Regions from separate parts of the Homo sapiens genome. Here region 1 is linked to region 2. A link means that fine-mapping ties the variant in region 2 to the expression of a gene that starts in the linked region. Tissue or cell type: whole blood. Region 2 holds a variant in brackets; the other region holds the start of a gene. All regions are shown on one strand. Distances are from middle to middle.

Region 1 (8,187 bases), 37 kb after region 2:
GGCGTAAATCTCTTGGCTCGAGGCAGTAGAGCAGTAGTTAGGAGCCCAGACCTCAGAAGCAAGCAGGCAGAGGTTCCATCCCAGTTTCACTATCATCAGAGGGCCCTCGGACAAATTAACTTTTCTTAGCCTCCATTTTCCTACCTGTAAAGTAGAAATACAACATCTACCTTGGAGAGTACTGGGTGAAGTGACCTAATGTCTGCCGTTACAGTAAGAACTTTGTTATCTTCATGGCAGGGTGAATCACTTTCACTTTATGAGGCAGTCTGCTCTATGTATTGCTCATATTTAGGCATTGATTCCTCTAACTGAGTAATTTTGATATTTTGGGCCAGGTAATTATTTGTTGTGGGGTCAGTCCTGTGCATTTAGCATGTTTAGTGGCATCTCTGGCCTCTACTCTCTAGTCAGCAGTAGCACCCCTCCCCAAGTTGTGAAAACCAAAAATGTCTCCAGATAATGCCAAATGTCCCCTGGAGGACAAAATATCCCCCAGTTTAGAACCACTGTTCTAGAACTTCCTAGTGTTGGGAGTCCAGAATATCATAGCACTAGAACTACTTTTCTGGAAACTTAGTCATTGGTTCCTTGGTAGTATCACATTGATGAGTTTCTTTTTTTAATGGCCTCATGGAAAAGTTGGGTTACTTATAAAAATTACTCATATCCTGCTGCTGCAAGCATTAATTTCCCTCTATATAAATATTTTAAAATGTCTTTTTGTCATCAGGAGGATAAGAGGCTGATATGGTTTGGCTCTGTGTCCTCACCCAAATCTCTTCATCCAATCACCTCCCATCTGTTCCCTCCCTCAAGGTTTACCCCATGCTGTTGACCCCCAGCTCCTCTGGGGGTACCCTTTGGTGGGTGGCCAACTGACCCTACAGAATTCAAAATATCCTCCTAGCAAATCTATGATTCTCAAGTTCCTGGTTGACCAAGTCAGGGAGGAATGATAATAACTGCTATGGTTCATTGAGTGCCTAACATGTTGTAGGCCGTTTCCTAGGATCTATAAATATTTATCTTATTTACACCTTACGACAAAATTATCTTCACTGTATAGAGGAGGAAACACATTCAGAAGCTCTGTTTAATTGGCTCCAGCTACAGTTGTAGTGGCAATTCCGGGACTGATACCCAGACCATTCTGTTCTACCACTGCAGTCTGTATTCCCACTCAACTCTGGGCTCTGCATATACTTCTCTACATTACCAGTTCCTTGTATGATACTTGGCATTATGTTGATGTTTAGTAAATGTTGTACAGCAAAGAAGGAAAAAAGGAAGGAAAGAAGGAAGTCTCCACTGTAGCTCCAGAGTTCTAGTGATAATTGGATTAATCTTTGAGACCTCTGAATCGCTGGGGCAAAAGGATGATAGCAATTATAATAATACATAATATTCACACTTCCAATTTTGATAACATTACAAAGTTTTGGGAAGTGTTTATGTAATATTTATCTCATGTAATTGTCAAGATATTTCTGGTGTAGAGTAGAGGTCATAACTATGGTCACTTGCCAGAGAGTGACCAGAACTAAAACTCTCTGAACTCTAAACTGTGTGAAAGAGAAGGAAGAACTGCAAAGAGATGAACACATTATCAGTCGACAGCAGGCACAAGAACACTTTATCAAACTTTCTCTACCATATCACAAAGATTCAAAAGAAACCAAGAAAGGAGAACTAGTTTTGTCTTTCATACACCATGCACAATGCTTTATAGTAACTGCCTGTCAGCAGCCAAAGGAAAATATTGCAACTCGAGCGCTCTCCTTGATCACTTCTGCTTTTCTTTTTCTTCCTGAGTTTGTTTTCCTAGTAAAAAAGTTAAAATAGGATTATTTAATTTCACTTCTCTTATTCACCTTCCTCTGTTTCTTAAAAATAAATGACACAGTTTAAAAAAAAGAACAGAAAATATCTCAATATTATTGTGAGGTATACTTTTTATAAGCAATGTAGAGTTCTTTCTAGATAGTTCCTCCCAGACCAGTTGATTTTATTTCCACATAACTTCATGAAGTGTTTCCTTTTAGAAAGCGATACCAAAGCTAGTCAACCACACTGTCAGGAGTTTGTAGAATCTTTATTTACTTCCAATGTGTTGCAATTGTGGCCCAAGTTGAATCAACAACTATGTTGTTTACCAAAATACATCAAATAGAAAACATTGAGCAATGATTTTCTAAAGTATTCTCTTTTTGGAGTTCTCTTGCATGGCTTTCTGAATACTGAAAGCCACTGAACATGTATGCCTCTTGTATATTTGAATATTGTAAACCCGGTTGACTTAACACAACATTCCTTTTTCATTTTTTCCTTTTCATTGAAGTAAAAAAAAACTGGTTTTTGTTTTGTTTTGTTTAAAAAAAAAAAAAAAACCCAGGTGGCTTTTAGAGATTTCTTCCACACTTAAAAAAAAATGAACACTGGAACCTATTGACATAAACTAAAAAATTATGTTTCTGTGAGAAATGTGTTCAAATGGTCCACCCAGAAATCTGAAAAAAAAATTTTTTAATGGCACCAAGGGACCCTACATTAAATGTGCTTGCATTAAGCAACGAATGCTTTTTTGAGAGTCTGACTGAAATAACAATTATAATAATTATTATGCTGCTGATGATATAGTTGAGTTGGTATTTATCGTCGTGGGAGGGTAAGTTCCCTTACTCAATGGATGAAGAAGCTCCTCCTCTGGTTAGTTACATTTGCCCTTGATTCCTGCTTCCCTGAGGGCAGGAGGTAATCCTTGGCAGCCAGACTGTGCTTTGGGTACTGGGACAGCGAGGCATGGAGTTCGTGTGTACTTCCACTACAGATTCACTCAGACAGCCTCCTCAGGATGTAGCTTCCCTCCCTCCTAGCAGAGGTGTACCAACTGCCTCAAATAGGGAAGATCTGCTGGATTTACATTTTGCATTTTTAGTTCTAAGGATAAAAGCATCTCTGATTTTCTTTTGCCTTCCTTCAAAACGTTTAAATTATAATTCACCATCACATCCCTAACTATTCATTAATTATCCCAAGTCCCTCCTAGGTTTATTATTTTGACAATGTTTCCTGACAGTATTAGCAGGTTACAAATTATTGTTAAAGCTATGATTACTTTATTTATGGTCACTGCATAACAATTGCTATCTGGGAAAGATTATATGTTGTGTACAGTTATCATTTGTAGTCACAAGGCTTTAAGGAAAGCTTAGAACATAGAACATATGTATAGGTTCCAAAAGTGTGTTTAAAACTTCAGTATATTTCAGCCACAGTGATCTTTGAGCAGAAGAAAAGGTCTGAGTTTTTTGTTGTTGTTGTTTTTTTTTTTTGAGACGGAGTCTCGCTCTGTCGCCCAGGCTGGAGTGCAGTGGCGTGATCTCAGCTCACTGCAAGCTCCACCTCCCGGGTTCACACCATTCTCCTGCCTCAGCCTCCCAAGTAGCTGGGACTACAGGCGCACGCTGCCACGCCTAGCTAATTTTTTGTATTTTTAGTAGAGACCAGGTTTCACCGTGTTAGCCAGGATGGTCTCGATCTCCTGACCTTGTGATCCGCCGGCCTCGGCCTCCCAAAGTGCTGGGATTACAGGCATGAGCCACCGCGCCCGGCCAGGTATGCGTTTTTAAACACTGTCCCTTAAGACAGTGACATTTGTTATAAGAGTTTTAACACCAGTTCCCATTTCCTACTCTTGAAATATATGAGTTAATGATTTTTTTGTGTGTACTTAAACATTGAAATTTGTTCTAAAATCTGAGCACCCTCTTTGAATATTAAAAATAGAATAGAAAGGTGGTATAACATTTAACTTTGATTTGATGCAGCGTGTAGCCAAGGAGATTTTTAGAGCAGTTAATATATGCCGAGGGATACTAGGATAAATAGTACAGAAGCACAATCTGTGCCCTTGGTCTAACAGTGTAGTGGGACATTTCAGAGCCATTTGTACAACTCTAACTTGATTGTTGATTTTAAAATGTATTTATTGAAGCACACCTCCTAAACATCAAGTCATTGCGAAAGGAGCCATATCATCATTTGAAAAACCAAACCACCGGATCATAAAATGGGGAGTAAATATCTAAAGCAGGCTTATTGCTGCCACCCCTGGATCCAGGGATCAAATATGAATTGTTGGGAATTTCCCTGCTTTTTTATGACCTACAAGGCATTTTTTCCCCTCAGTTTAGTGAATATGTGTGTGTATTCATGTAAACTTACATCTGATAATATTGATAAAGCGGACAGACAAACAGATCAGACCTGCAGTTGACAGAGAATCTGCTGCTTCAGTAAGAAACTCATCTAAGAATCCTGTGCTTTTTGGAGACTTCCCCCTCCAGTTTCCAATTAATCATAAGATTCACAGATAGTGTCAAGAAGGCACAGAGAAAATAAAATATGAATTGAATTGGGACACTAGGGTGCTAAAGGACATTCAAAGAGAGTCCTGGAGGAGTTCAAGGCAAGATCCCAGGTCACACCGAGGTCATTTCTATGGTGAGATGGACCCAGCTCCCATCACTGGGTTCTAATGTGTTACATTAAAAGAAGTAGCAACATTGACCACAGCTTGAAAGACCACCGATTCATTCTGCAAGAGTGAGGAAAATCAAAGAAAGTTTAGATTGACTTGATAAATAAAAGAATAAATGACAAAACTGTCATCAGTTACCTTATTAAAGATGAAGTGGGACACAGAAACTGTTGGTGGACTTGCTCAGCTGATGGCAGCTTTCCTGCTGTGCACGGGGAAGGAAGAGTTGTGCCACCCTGGCCAGGCTGATCCTCTTGAGGTCGAGGTGCCTGGGTTTCCGTAGAGCTCTGAGTACTACATGTGTGAGGAATCCTCAGGTTCTCTCCTTGCTCTGTGAGTCACTCCCATTGTGACACAACGTGATGACTAAATATCTCTTGAATAGCTCATAAAAGCCAAGAAGCTGTAGGTCGCATGTTTCAAAAGGAATCAGCAGTATAAATTTAGCTACTTTTAGAAGAGACTTTAAAATGATCAATAACATTCATTTTATGATTAGTACAATCTCTTGACCAAATTCAGCAGCAGAAATAATATAACAAAGAAATAAATATTTTGTAAACTGCCTGGTGCGTGGTTTTAATAGTTTTCAAATTGTGATTATTCTTCATAATCTCCATTTTTTCCTTCCTGTTAGCATGCCTTGGCTTATTTAACACTCCTTCCCTCCTAAGAGAATAAGTAGGAGAAATCAGTCTCTGAGATTGGTGTTACCATTTTTTTTAAGATGGGCGAGCAAGGAGATAAAAACAACATAATAAAATGAGGTTTTGGAATTACTTATGGGTCTTAATTTATGTTTTAAGGTATGACAAGGAGAGCTTACTAAAGTGGTCTCTGGAACTGAGACCGCTGAGAATAGGAAAGGATGCCTCCTCCCCTCCCAGAGTTTGTCTGTGTCAGAGTTGATCACAGTTGACCTGGCGTATCCTGGGACCACAGTGGAAAGTACTGAGGCCGCAGGCGAGGAGGGGAGGAGATGGTGCTAATCTAGCCTGCCACCCTTCACCTTCACCACTGTAGCCACTCAGGCAGGTACAAATACCACTTTGCTGATTTTTCATTTTCAGTTTCCTCGTATACCAGTTTGTTGCTATACTCTTCTGATTTCCCAGACTCTGTATTCCTCCTTTGAAAATTGCAGTTATTATGGTTCAACTGGAATGAGCACATGAATGAACATATCTGTCTAGGTAGAGTCAGGACACTGCTATCACCCTTTAAAATAAGTAGTGGTCTTTTTTCTTTAAAAGAACAACAAACCCACTTTGGGAGGCCAAAGCGGGCGGATCACTTGAGGTCAGAAGTTTGAGACTAGCCTGGCCAACATCGTGAAACCCCATCTCTACTAAAAATACAAAAAATTAGCCAGGCATGGTGGTGGGCACCTGTAATCCCAGCAACTTGGTAAGCTAAGACAGAATCTCTTGAATCTGGGAGGCCAAGTTGCGTGTGAGCCAAGATCGCGCCATTGCCCTCCAGCCTGGGTAACAGCGTGAGACTCCGTCTCAAAACAAACAAAAACAAACAAACAAACAAACTGAAATTTACTCAGGTTCACATTTAGGGTGCCCCAAATGTGCTAAATATGCTTTTTCCTCTTTAGCATTTCATAAGTATGGCTTAAATATAAAACCTCATAGACAATACATTGACTTAGAGCCACATGAAGTAAGGTATAAATAATTAATACTGAACCCTTCCTGTGAGCCTGTTATTGTCACTAAGAGGAGAAGAGAGCCTCATGCACCTGGGTGGTCATGCAGTGTTAACTGAAAAGGGCAAAGAAAAAGTTATAACAATAGTTAAAATTTTGCTACTTAATGAACTCGCCTAGTGCAGCCGTGTTTCAAAAACTTTCCAAATAGACTTAAAAAAAGTCAAATGTTTAGACTGATTTGCATATTGGAAATTAGAATTCTTGCCATCTATCTGGCTTGTCCCTCAATTCCTGTGGGCCCAACTCATGGGTTCAGTTTCAGTATATGGCACCACAGCCAGAACACCCCCTCTCCTTGTCCAATGGTCCCACATAGGCGATCAGTTAATGAAGTCATGTTAGCAGTGTCTTATCCAGACTGTAACCATATACACATTCAAATTCATATCTCAAGTGCCAAGTTGTCTTTCATTTCACCTCTTTAATATACAACCTTTGAAAGTGCTACTTTGTTCAGAACTCATCCTACATTGACTTCAGATCAAAGATCACATTAAAAAAAAAATCTGGAACCAAATTGCCATTTGAGTTTTTTCCTAGTTCCTTTTTAAAACAAAGGAGTGCACTGTGCATTTTATTTTAATGTTTGTAGGTGGAATGTAAGTATACAGTGGTAAGGCTAGATGCCACCACAGACAACACACTAAAGATAGAGTTATCCTTTTTCTTCTGAATCTGTATGCCTCCCATACTTCTACCCAAGAGTATCTTCTCCACCCCTTTCCAAATACCAAAACATAAGGAGGAAACTCAGATCTGAGGCTGTCTCAGGAGACATACGTTAGGCTTCCTGCAACTACACCATTCTGGGGATGGTCTAAGTCACAGATCATTCTAAGATGAGCTTCAACTGGAGGAAAGCACTTACTCCAGTGTGCAGGCTGTGGTGGGTCCAACTTCTGGAGTATATCCAGTGTCACTCTTGTAAGGCTGACCAGGAGGGTGAGGCTGGTGATAGAGCATGCACAGTGGCTTCTTCCTTCTGGCATAATGATGTAATCCTCTCTCTCAAGTCATTCTCAGTGGAACATGTTTCTCTGAACGACTATAAGCTGCTATGAAGACTTCATGTTTTAAAAGTGTACTTTATATTTTCTTCCTCCTCCCTTTGTCAACAGGGAGTTCTCTTATTTCTACTGTAAAGGGAACCTGTACTTTGGTTCCCTTTTTATACAAACAATGCCTTTGACATTTGAGTAGCTTCTTTGGCTAGGCTTGGTCAAAACCAGGAGCTTTGTTACCCATTTGGCCTTTCATGACTCTCCCAGCTGTAAGATGAAGCAGGGCTAATCTTTTGTTTTTCTCTACTATGCAATCTTTAGATATACAAATAGAGATGGAGTCATGGGAACATTTGATAGATTCTTTGAATAAAGATTTTTCTTATTTACAGAGCACATATCCTTTTAGCTTACCCAACAAGAGGTCCTGCGTTGAAAAGTGAAGTGAGAAGTATTATATGGGGAATTATTGTTCTGGTAGATGGAGCAAGAGAGAAGATAGGTGAGAATGAAAGTAACAAATGAACAGAAACACTGTGGATTTTCAGCAACTTGAAAGAAGGAAAGGTGAAGGCTAAGAAAATGTGTCTGTCACAGAGGGAGGGAGGTGGGTGCTCCTTCTGGTATGACCATCACATGTTCACATGTGAGCATTAAAAATTTTTTTCCTGGCTTAAGAATGATCTTCCTGCCAAGTTTCCTAGTTTCTTTCAATCCCTTTCAAAAAGAAGGCAACTTCTTTTTCCCAGAATCTTAACTGAGATGATAAAATATCAAATGAAATTAAGAGCAGATGCTAGATGCAGCTGATTGTGTAATATGCAAGTACTATCCAGTGGGAAAGAACTCACGGGGATTCATGAAGTGGGGAGGAGTGAGTTAGAGACAACTGTCTTCAGATCCTGTTTGGCTTGTTCTGGACT
Region 2 (8,187 bases):
TATATGAAGGGAAAGGCCAGAGGTCAGAGCAGGAGAGTAAAGGGCTGGGAGATGGAGAGTGCAGGTGAGTGAGTGTGGATTGGGGACATGGAGGTCATTGTTTACCAGCATGCAGAGGTGGAACCTGGGAGGGTTTCTTTTTTATCCATGTTAGTATTGTCATCCCATTCCATTTGATGCAAGGCTACCTCTTCCTGGTTCCGTGCTATCAGTTAAAACATAGTCTCTCCCCTGTTTCCAGCTCTTCATCTCATGGCACTATCCCTACAGCAAAAGCTCGAAGTCCCCTGCTCTCTGAGGATACCAAGGCAAAGAAATGCCCATGAACTCTGATTCCTCTTAGAGGGTGCCAGGAATTTTGAAACAGATGTAATTCATCTTCTAAGGACTTCAACAAGTGTTGTTTGTTTCTTCCCCATTCAGCTGTTTGTAGTAGGCTTAGTTTGACAGCTGATTCAGGTTGTATTGAGATTGTCCCTCTCCCACTGGCAGGGCACTTTGCTAGTGCCACTGGCAGGTTGGCTAGTCAACACCTGCTCTGTGCTTGCCCTTGTTCTCAGAGCGCTAGGGACAGGAGAGCCTTACCGCTCACGTTCCTGTCTCAGAAAAGCAACGGATAATGATGTAGAATTCGTTTTTATAATGATGTATAGCCAGCAAATTCCCCAAACTCGCGTCACATCTTATTATAGAGACGTGCTTGCCTCTGGGGCGTCTCCTTGCAGGCCCATCTCAGGCGAGCAGCCAAACAAAGGAAGAGGCACGGAAGGCAGAGCGGCAGGAAGGAGGCTGTAAGGAAACGATGTGCACAATCGCCGCCTGGCAAGCTCACAGCCATCCCCGCAGTAAGCTTCCCCGGGATTTCCTGAAGGCCTCGATGGGGGCTTTGTAGCAAACTTTAGCTTTTTATACATCTCGGTAGCAATGAAAATAGAGCAACTGAGGTTGATTGATGGAGCTGAGTGGTGCCTATTATTCATCCCAAAGCTTTTGTTAGAAAGGGGAGGTGAAAATATCCTTAGCCCTAAGCGGTCCCTGCTTCTAGTTGAGACCCCAGCCCTATCTCTCTCTGGTTTGAAAAGTGCTTGGCTCCAGCACAAGGAGGTCGGTGGGAGAAACCAAGCGAAGGTCGTACCACTTTTTTTTTCCCCTTTATTTTATGTTAGTCATGGTAAGTGGCTGGATTTTTAAAACGATCCAAAAGCATGAAGTGGGAGCCTGAAGTATTCTTATTTGCATATTAATGCCAAGCCTGTGTTGCCAGCACCCAGTTATTTCAAAGGCTGTTGCCAAGAGCACAGCTTTGAAAGGCCTCAGCGCAGAGGCGGGCACCTGGGGCCTCTGCCCTAGGCTTCACCAAATGACAGCACACGGCTCCTTCTTTCTGCTGCTCTCTGGGCTTCCTGGGTGCAACAAACAACAGCTTCTCCAAGTGGCCAACTTCACCCATGCCTGTTCCCTCTCCACAAAGGTGAACAAATGCAGCGAACTGAGGCGCGGGAGATGGGCAGCGCTTTGGATATGGGGGCTATTTTTCTTGTATACCTTGGAGTATTTTTGATCAATTGGCTTTTTATTACGTTTATCATTGATCGACTGTGTTCTGGTTACTCCGGGTTATCCTAGACCTTAGCAATGGCTGGGCTGCGAGGATGGCGGTTTTCCATCAGACAGTGGAGTGGGGACCTGTCCTTTTATATGTTCAGTATTGTCATAGCACTACTGAACTAGGAGTATGTTGGCTTTAGGTTGTCCAAAACAGCTTGCCTACTAGATAATCCCAGTAATTTAACCAGGTTTCTTTCAAACCATGGTAGATTTTGGTCCATTTAAGTGAAACTTCTTAGAGGACGGACTTGTTCCTTTCCAATATGACCAAACAGGGGCTGCGGGACGCTTACTGGGATCCCAGGTATTTTGTGGGCATAGGGCGCCCCCTAGTGTCCAATTGAGAGCACTGAGCTTGCGTGCTCTAATCCTGGCAAAAAATTGAGCCCAGGTGCGGGAATAAGGAGAGGAATCTCAACTGATTTTCACTCATTCCCTGGGCCAGGGTGTTGCGGGGAGGGATGGAAGTGGGGAGGGGGAGCCCGCTCAGGAAGCAGCTTGTCCAGTCCCCTGGAAGCTGCATCCAGACCACAACCACTGGGAGGGAGAGTGATCTGTGTCCAGGACTTCTTTACCCACCGAATATTCAGAGGAGACCAAGTTCACGCAGTGGAAAGAGGTTGGATTTGGGAGTTAAAGAGACTAGGGTTCAACTCCTAACTTAGCCATTAACCAGTAGCGTGACCCTGCACTAAGCACTTAACCTTATTGATGGCGATAATTTCAAAATGGTGGCAGGAATAAGTGTTATTTCAGGGTGATAAGGAGAATCCTGTGAGAGTAAAGACAGCATCTGTGAAGTGCCTGCCACTCTCAGCAAACGTTAGACCCCTCTGCCTGTTGGCTGTCTCTCATCCGAAATCTGAAACTGCTTCCATGGGCTGTGTTCATGAATATGCCATGTCTGTCTATAAAAATATAGAGAGGATTTTTTTTGGTGTGTTTTTGGATGTTTTAATGGATTTTTCAAAGTAAATCTTAAGGTTTACCCTAAAATAGCTCATGCAACCATTTCCAGCTTAGATGTGGCCATTTGCTCTTTGACAATTACGAGAAACTGTTAGGCTGTAGCCTTGGAGCCTGGGCTGCCAATCGGGCCGAGTGAGGTGACTCACTAATAGGGGTCTACCTTCCCTGGGATGGCTGGCACAGAACCTCCAGACCAGGACAAGCCATGTCTTGCTTCTAGCTTCACTAAAAGTCGTGGATCAGTTTTCGCAGTGACCCACTCCAGTGTAATGTCAAAATGTTTTCCTAACAAATCTCAAAACCTTTTAGCTTTCAATTTTCTTTTCCTTTCAACTTCTTTGGGGCCACTTTTCTATTGCAGAAGAGTTGGGATTAATTAGAAAATACTCTTCTGTCTTCTATTTTTACTATGGAAGGAGAAAAGAGGGATTCTTGGTAACATAGGTAGCACAGGTAAATGTGGGCTTACCCAAAAAAAGAAAATAGTTGACAGACAGCTGCTTTTGCTGCAGGCTTAAATGCTTACAAGAAAGGGAAGTGAATTAGAACATGTGAATAGGTCATTTTGAAAAGTCGCTTTGTGTGTGGGAAGAGACAGGTTGATGGAGAGGCCCACAAGTGTCTGACAAGGCAGACAGCTGAGTCCCAGTTTAGTCCCCTGTGTACATATGCATCTGTGTGTCTTTGGGCACAACACTTACCTCTCTCACATCTCTATTTTTTCCATCTGTAAAATGAGGCATCATTGTGGCACTTACCACATAAGGTCGTTGAGAAGATTATATTAGATGATGCATATAGCACATATCTACATAAAATGTATCCAACAAAGGATATATCTTTCTGCTGTTATTCATTCACACTTTCTTTCTGTATGAACTTATTTTGGGTACATACTGTACCTTTTGCAAGCTTCCTTGGCAATTTACAGAAATGTAGGTGGTCTTACTTCACTTCCTGCTGAAATGAGAGAGCAATCGGTACTTTAACCATCTAGGGATAAGATATAGAGATGTTATGCAATCTCTACTTGGCTTTGAAAACAGAAGGCACTTAGGATCTGCTTGTCACCTAACTTGGAGCCAAATAAAATGCTAAGTGTAGGAAATATGTCAGTTCTCACAAGGGCAGGCCTCCTATCACATCCCTTCTCCATCAGACTGCTTCTGGGAGCTGAGAGGGCCTCCTAGGTGGGGTCCCCCTGTTTTTTTCTTAGTTTGGGTTTAAGTGGAGGCATTGGTAACCAACAGCCATGAGTCAGGTACCTCAGTCTTCCTCCAATGGTGTTTCTCATCATGCCCAGGCTGATTTGACACTAAAAAAGGACCAGGACCTCCTCACTATGTCACCTCCCTTTTAAAAAAAAATTCACAGTACCTTTGTCACAGTGTTCAGGTTGAGGGTGATAGCTCAGGTTCAAAACCTGACCACAGTATTTCCTGTGGTTTCTATTGCATTTCATTACACTGTGCTAGAAAAGTGCAAGGG[A/G]AAGTGCTGCTATCATTACCTTGCGGAAAAGCAAGTATTTCTGCAAGTTTATGGTAACACAGAAACAATCAATGCCAGATGCAAGCCGGGGATGGTGCATACCTATAGTCCCAGCTGCCTGCAAACTGAGGTGGCAGGATTACTTGAGCCTAGGAGTTAGAGACCAGCCTAAGCAACATAGCAAGAACCTGTCTCTAGAAAATAAAAAAACAGAAAACATCAGACGCAAATTCATCAAAGATTTGGTATGAGAACTTGTTCTTTCTCCAAAGTGATTGTGGTAATTATTTTTTATAATAATAGTTTTCATAGTTCAAAACTCTATATGACCAAGTGAATTGACTTCACTGATAAAAGATAAAACTTCTCATGGCTGTGACTTAGATATTCTAAAAACATACAACCACAGAGCCAGAAGGGCCCTTAGCGGCATCTGTTGCTGGTTGCTGCCTGCAGGAGGCTGTCTGAAGTAGAGGTTGGTGGTCCCAACTGCTATCCCTTAAGCTCTGAGATTCTGGATAAGTTTCATACCCTATCTGAGCTCTGCTCCTCTTCATAGTCTTGCAAGGTTGTTGTAGAAAGATTAAATGAGGTAACCACGCATGCAAAACAGTTAACACAGTTTAATTAACAATTAGCCAATGAACACACAATTAGTGCTGTTATTGAACAGTTGCTCAACATTTGGTAATAACCATTATCATCATCATTATCATCTTATTTCTACAACTTTACAGGGCTGAGGGTGTCATGCCCTTAGTTCTCTATTCTGGTCAGTCTCTGGGGTCAGATTTCCTGCTGTGTAACTGAACTCTCTTATCTTTCCCGCAATAGAGGAAGCCCATTTCTTCGTATCCAACTCTTGCTCTGTCCTGAATCTGACATAGTATTATTTAAGTCTCCTCACCTTTCAGGGCCTCTATTCCCTTTTCTTTGAAATTACCTGCTGGTAATTTCTTTGAAATTAGGAGGAGTGTTGGCGACCTGAAGGGCCTTGCAACTTTGCCACTATGTATAGTAACATCCTTCTGGTAACTGAAGGCATTGCCAGGCCAGGCTTCCATCTTGGGCCATTCCTCTGTAGCCATGGGTAGGACTCCCCACAATGGTGCTGAGAAAATGGTGATGAATGGATGTTTGTTGTGGTTGTTTTCCCCACAGGTCTCAGATCTCCTCTCATCATTCTGAGTGTTCTGCTGAGGATCTCTTCTCGTTACACCTAACTTATACAATAGGGAAGAACAAAAGTCAGAGTGTTGCTCTTGTCCTTGTCTTCGACCTTGGCCAATCCATTCAAATAACAGATCAAGGTGCGGGCCAACTTATAGCTAGGTTCTGCCATGAACCTAAGCTAATTTGAAAAAGTGCCAACAAAATGAATAATACTCATAGCTACAATACATTAAAAGCACTATGCTGTATTTGACATGCATTTACTTGTTTAATTCTTGTAACTGTCCAAGGTACACCCACCCCCATTATACAGATGAGAAAACTAAGAGAAATTAAGTAATATGCCAATGGTCAAGCCAATGCTAAGGGCAAAGATGGGTTTTGACCCCAGGAGCTCGATCCAAGAGTCTCTGTTCTTGACCACCTATGAGGCACTTCTAGACAGATTTCTCACCATTTTTTTAAAGTACTCATCCAGGAAAGATGCTCAGAGGCAAGAAGATGGGCTAGATGAACTCCTGAGGAGTGTTTCACTCCATCATGCTGCCAAGCCAATGCCATAGCCCCATCATCGCATGGCTCCATAATGAAGGATCACAGAGTGTGGGGCTTAAACAACAGAAAAATGTTGTCTCACACTCCTGGAAGCTAAAATTCAGAAATCAAGGTGTTGGCAGGTTGGTTCCTTTGAGGGCTGTGAGGGAAGGATCTGTTCCAGGCCTCTGTCCTTGGCTTGCAGATGGCTATCTTCTCATGCGTCTCTTCATGTTATCTTCCCCCTATGTGTCTGTGTCCAAATTTTCCTTTTTATAAGGGCATATGTCATATTGGATTAGGGTCCACACTAATGACCTCATTTTAACTTGATTACCTCTGTAAAGAGGCTGTCTCCAAATAAGGTCACATTCTGAGGTAGTAGGGGTTAGGACTCCAACATATATTTTTTGCTGGGGTGATATATTTCAACCCATAACAGCTCCCCTGTCATTTCAAGGTAATAATGAGTGTGATGACTCCATTTCCTCACAGCAGGGAAGTGGTTTACTTAACAGCGAACTGTCAAAGAGGTTTAGGTTTTAGAATCAGACAGGGCAACTTTGTTAATGCCTCATTTGCTACTTTTTGCAAATAGTCAAGTAAGTGGATCTCTGGTACTCATTTAAAAAACAGAACAGGTTTAAGAAATAAATAAAGGGAAAGTTTCAATCAATGTCTTACTTTTAGAAGCCTTGACTGCTGGTATCATGGAACTGACTCTTAGTAAATCAAACACTCTTCAGGAATTAGATCAGCAAAGGGAAGGTCATATTTTCTAAATAGTTGCCTGAAATAATTAATTAACTTTACTTAGAGGAGTAACTTACCTTCAGAATGATTTATTAATGGATTGGTGATTCCACTTATAAATGCTATTGTTGATAAATGGCATTACACTCATAAGAATTGCTTACAGTCAATACAATTATCTTTTTTCTTATTTTATCCAGGGTAAATATAATTGCTGCAATAAATTAGAGAGGAAACAAGAGCATAGGGAATATTAACTTCAAGATGTATTTAATGAAGGAATAACAGCATCGATATTGAATGACTTCATGTTGTGAAGTTGTCACAACCAAAATGGAGTCACTTGTGTTAAAAAAAAAAAAAAACCCTCACAAATAGAGCTATGAAGGCTGTGAAGAGAGAGTTCTCATGTTTGCATGCCTGATTTTAAAAAAGTCTAACATAAAAGACTGCAACAACCACAACCTTGCACAAAGGCCATCACAACCTTACACAAAAAATACTTCTGCAAAGACATCTTCCCAGGAACTGTCTGCCCAACCTCAGACTGGCAGACCTTGTTATTGATCACCCTTGTTATTGATCTTTGTAGCCAAAGGTAATCATTTCAAAATAATTATGTATCCTTCTCATTTTTTCCTTTAAAACTCCTTGTCTTTTTTTTTTTTTTTTTACCTCCCTGAATGCACACATAGTTTACTATGGCACCTGCATTCCCGTTGCAATGCCCTACTCCCAAATAAACATCATTTTCTTTTAGAGAGCCTGTCTGTATTTGTTACTTCGTTGACAATATGTTGGTTAAGTCAGGCACTGAAGAAGTAAAACTGATGGAATCATAGCCATCTATTGCCTAAGGAGGGCCAGATTTGAAAATGATGACTGTGAACATTATTTTTAGGATTCCTAGTCTTTTGTTCATTAAAATTTGAACGTTTTAGAGCAAGGTAGAGAAAATGTGGAGTCTAGCTATGCTACCGTTTGTGTAAAAAGTATGTGAAAAGGTTATCTATACATTGTCTATATATATGCATCTCAGCAATGACACAGGAGAAAGTCCTAGCTAGGGACCAGAGGCCTGGGAAGAGGAAGACTAAGATTTCACTGTATATTCTTTCCTAGTTTTGTTGTTCAATTTATACTGGATCCATTAATAACACCTGTTTTAAGAAGTGAGCACATGTTTCTGACAACTGCACCCCCACACAATTAAACTAGCTATGGATGCCCAGGTTGCAGGTTGCCCCAAGAATCCTTCCAGCCTCCTTTTCGCTGTGCTAATCCTCGGGGCTGCTTCTGGGCAAGATCTGAAATTTAGCTTTAGTTGATCTTGATGTGTATTCCCTCTCCTTTCAGCAGCTGCCTCCTTTCTCCTCATCAGAAGCTAAGGCGCTTCTTTCAAGTCTTGAAGAAATGAAATTCCAGGCCTCATGAAAACTGAAGCAAGAGATATTTGGCTTGTTACATCCCACGGTTTTAGTGATTAGAAAGGTTAGGTCTCTTTATGCTGGTATGTACCATATTTGAAGAAAGACCCTGTCCAGCCATAGAATCCTCAAATGTCATCCAAGTCAGCAAATGCAACCCCATATTGCTTGACTCCCTTCTCCGGCATCCCCATTCCAAGGGTGGTCCTTCCTGTGCTTGCCTGCCAATGGCAGC

Alleles and levels. Positions count from the first base shown, and alleles are read on the strand shown. Sizes are in standard deviations (SD) of each study's normalised expression.
With allele A in place of G in region 2, the expression in whole blood of the gene that starts at base 4,836 in region 1 is lower (moderate effect, 0.55 SD a copy in Lepik 2017).

What was found. PIP is the estimated chance that this variant, and not a neighbour inherited with it, causes the effect.
Region 1: it holds the start of DHRS9, and the variant in region 2 is fine-mapped to the expression of DHRS9 in whole blood (TOPMed, PIP above 0.99).

The regions. Positions count from the first base shown.
Region 1 is chr2:169,066,212-169,074,398 of GRCh38, reverse strand. DHRS9 (dehydrogenase/reductase 9) reads right to left here and starts at 4,836. Exons shown (of 5, transcript NM_001376924.1): 1 at 4,682-4,836.
Region 2 is chr2:169,103,701-169,111,887 of GRCh38, reverse strand. No RefSeq gene overlaps it. Among named protein-coding and RNA genes, the nearest start is that of DHRS9, 38 kb to the right of the region's middle. RefSeq lists enhancers at 863-1,363, 1,364-1,864. The variant A/G (reference allele first, on the strand shown) is at 4,066.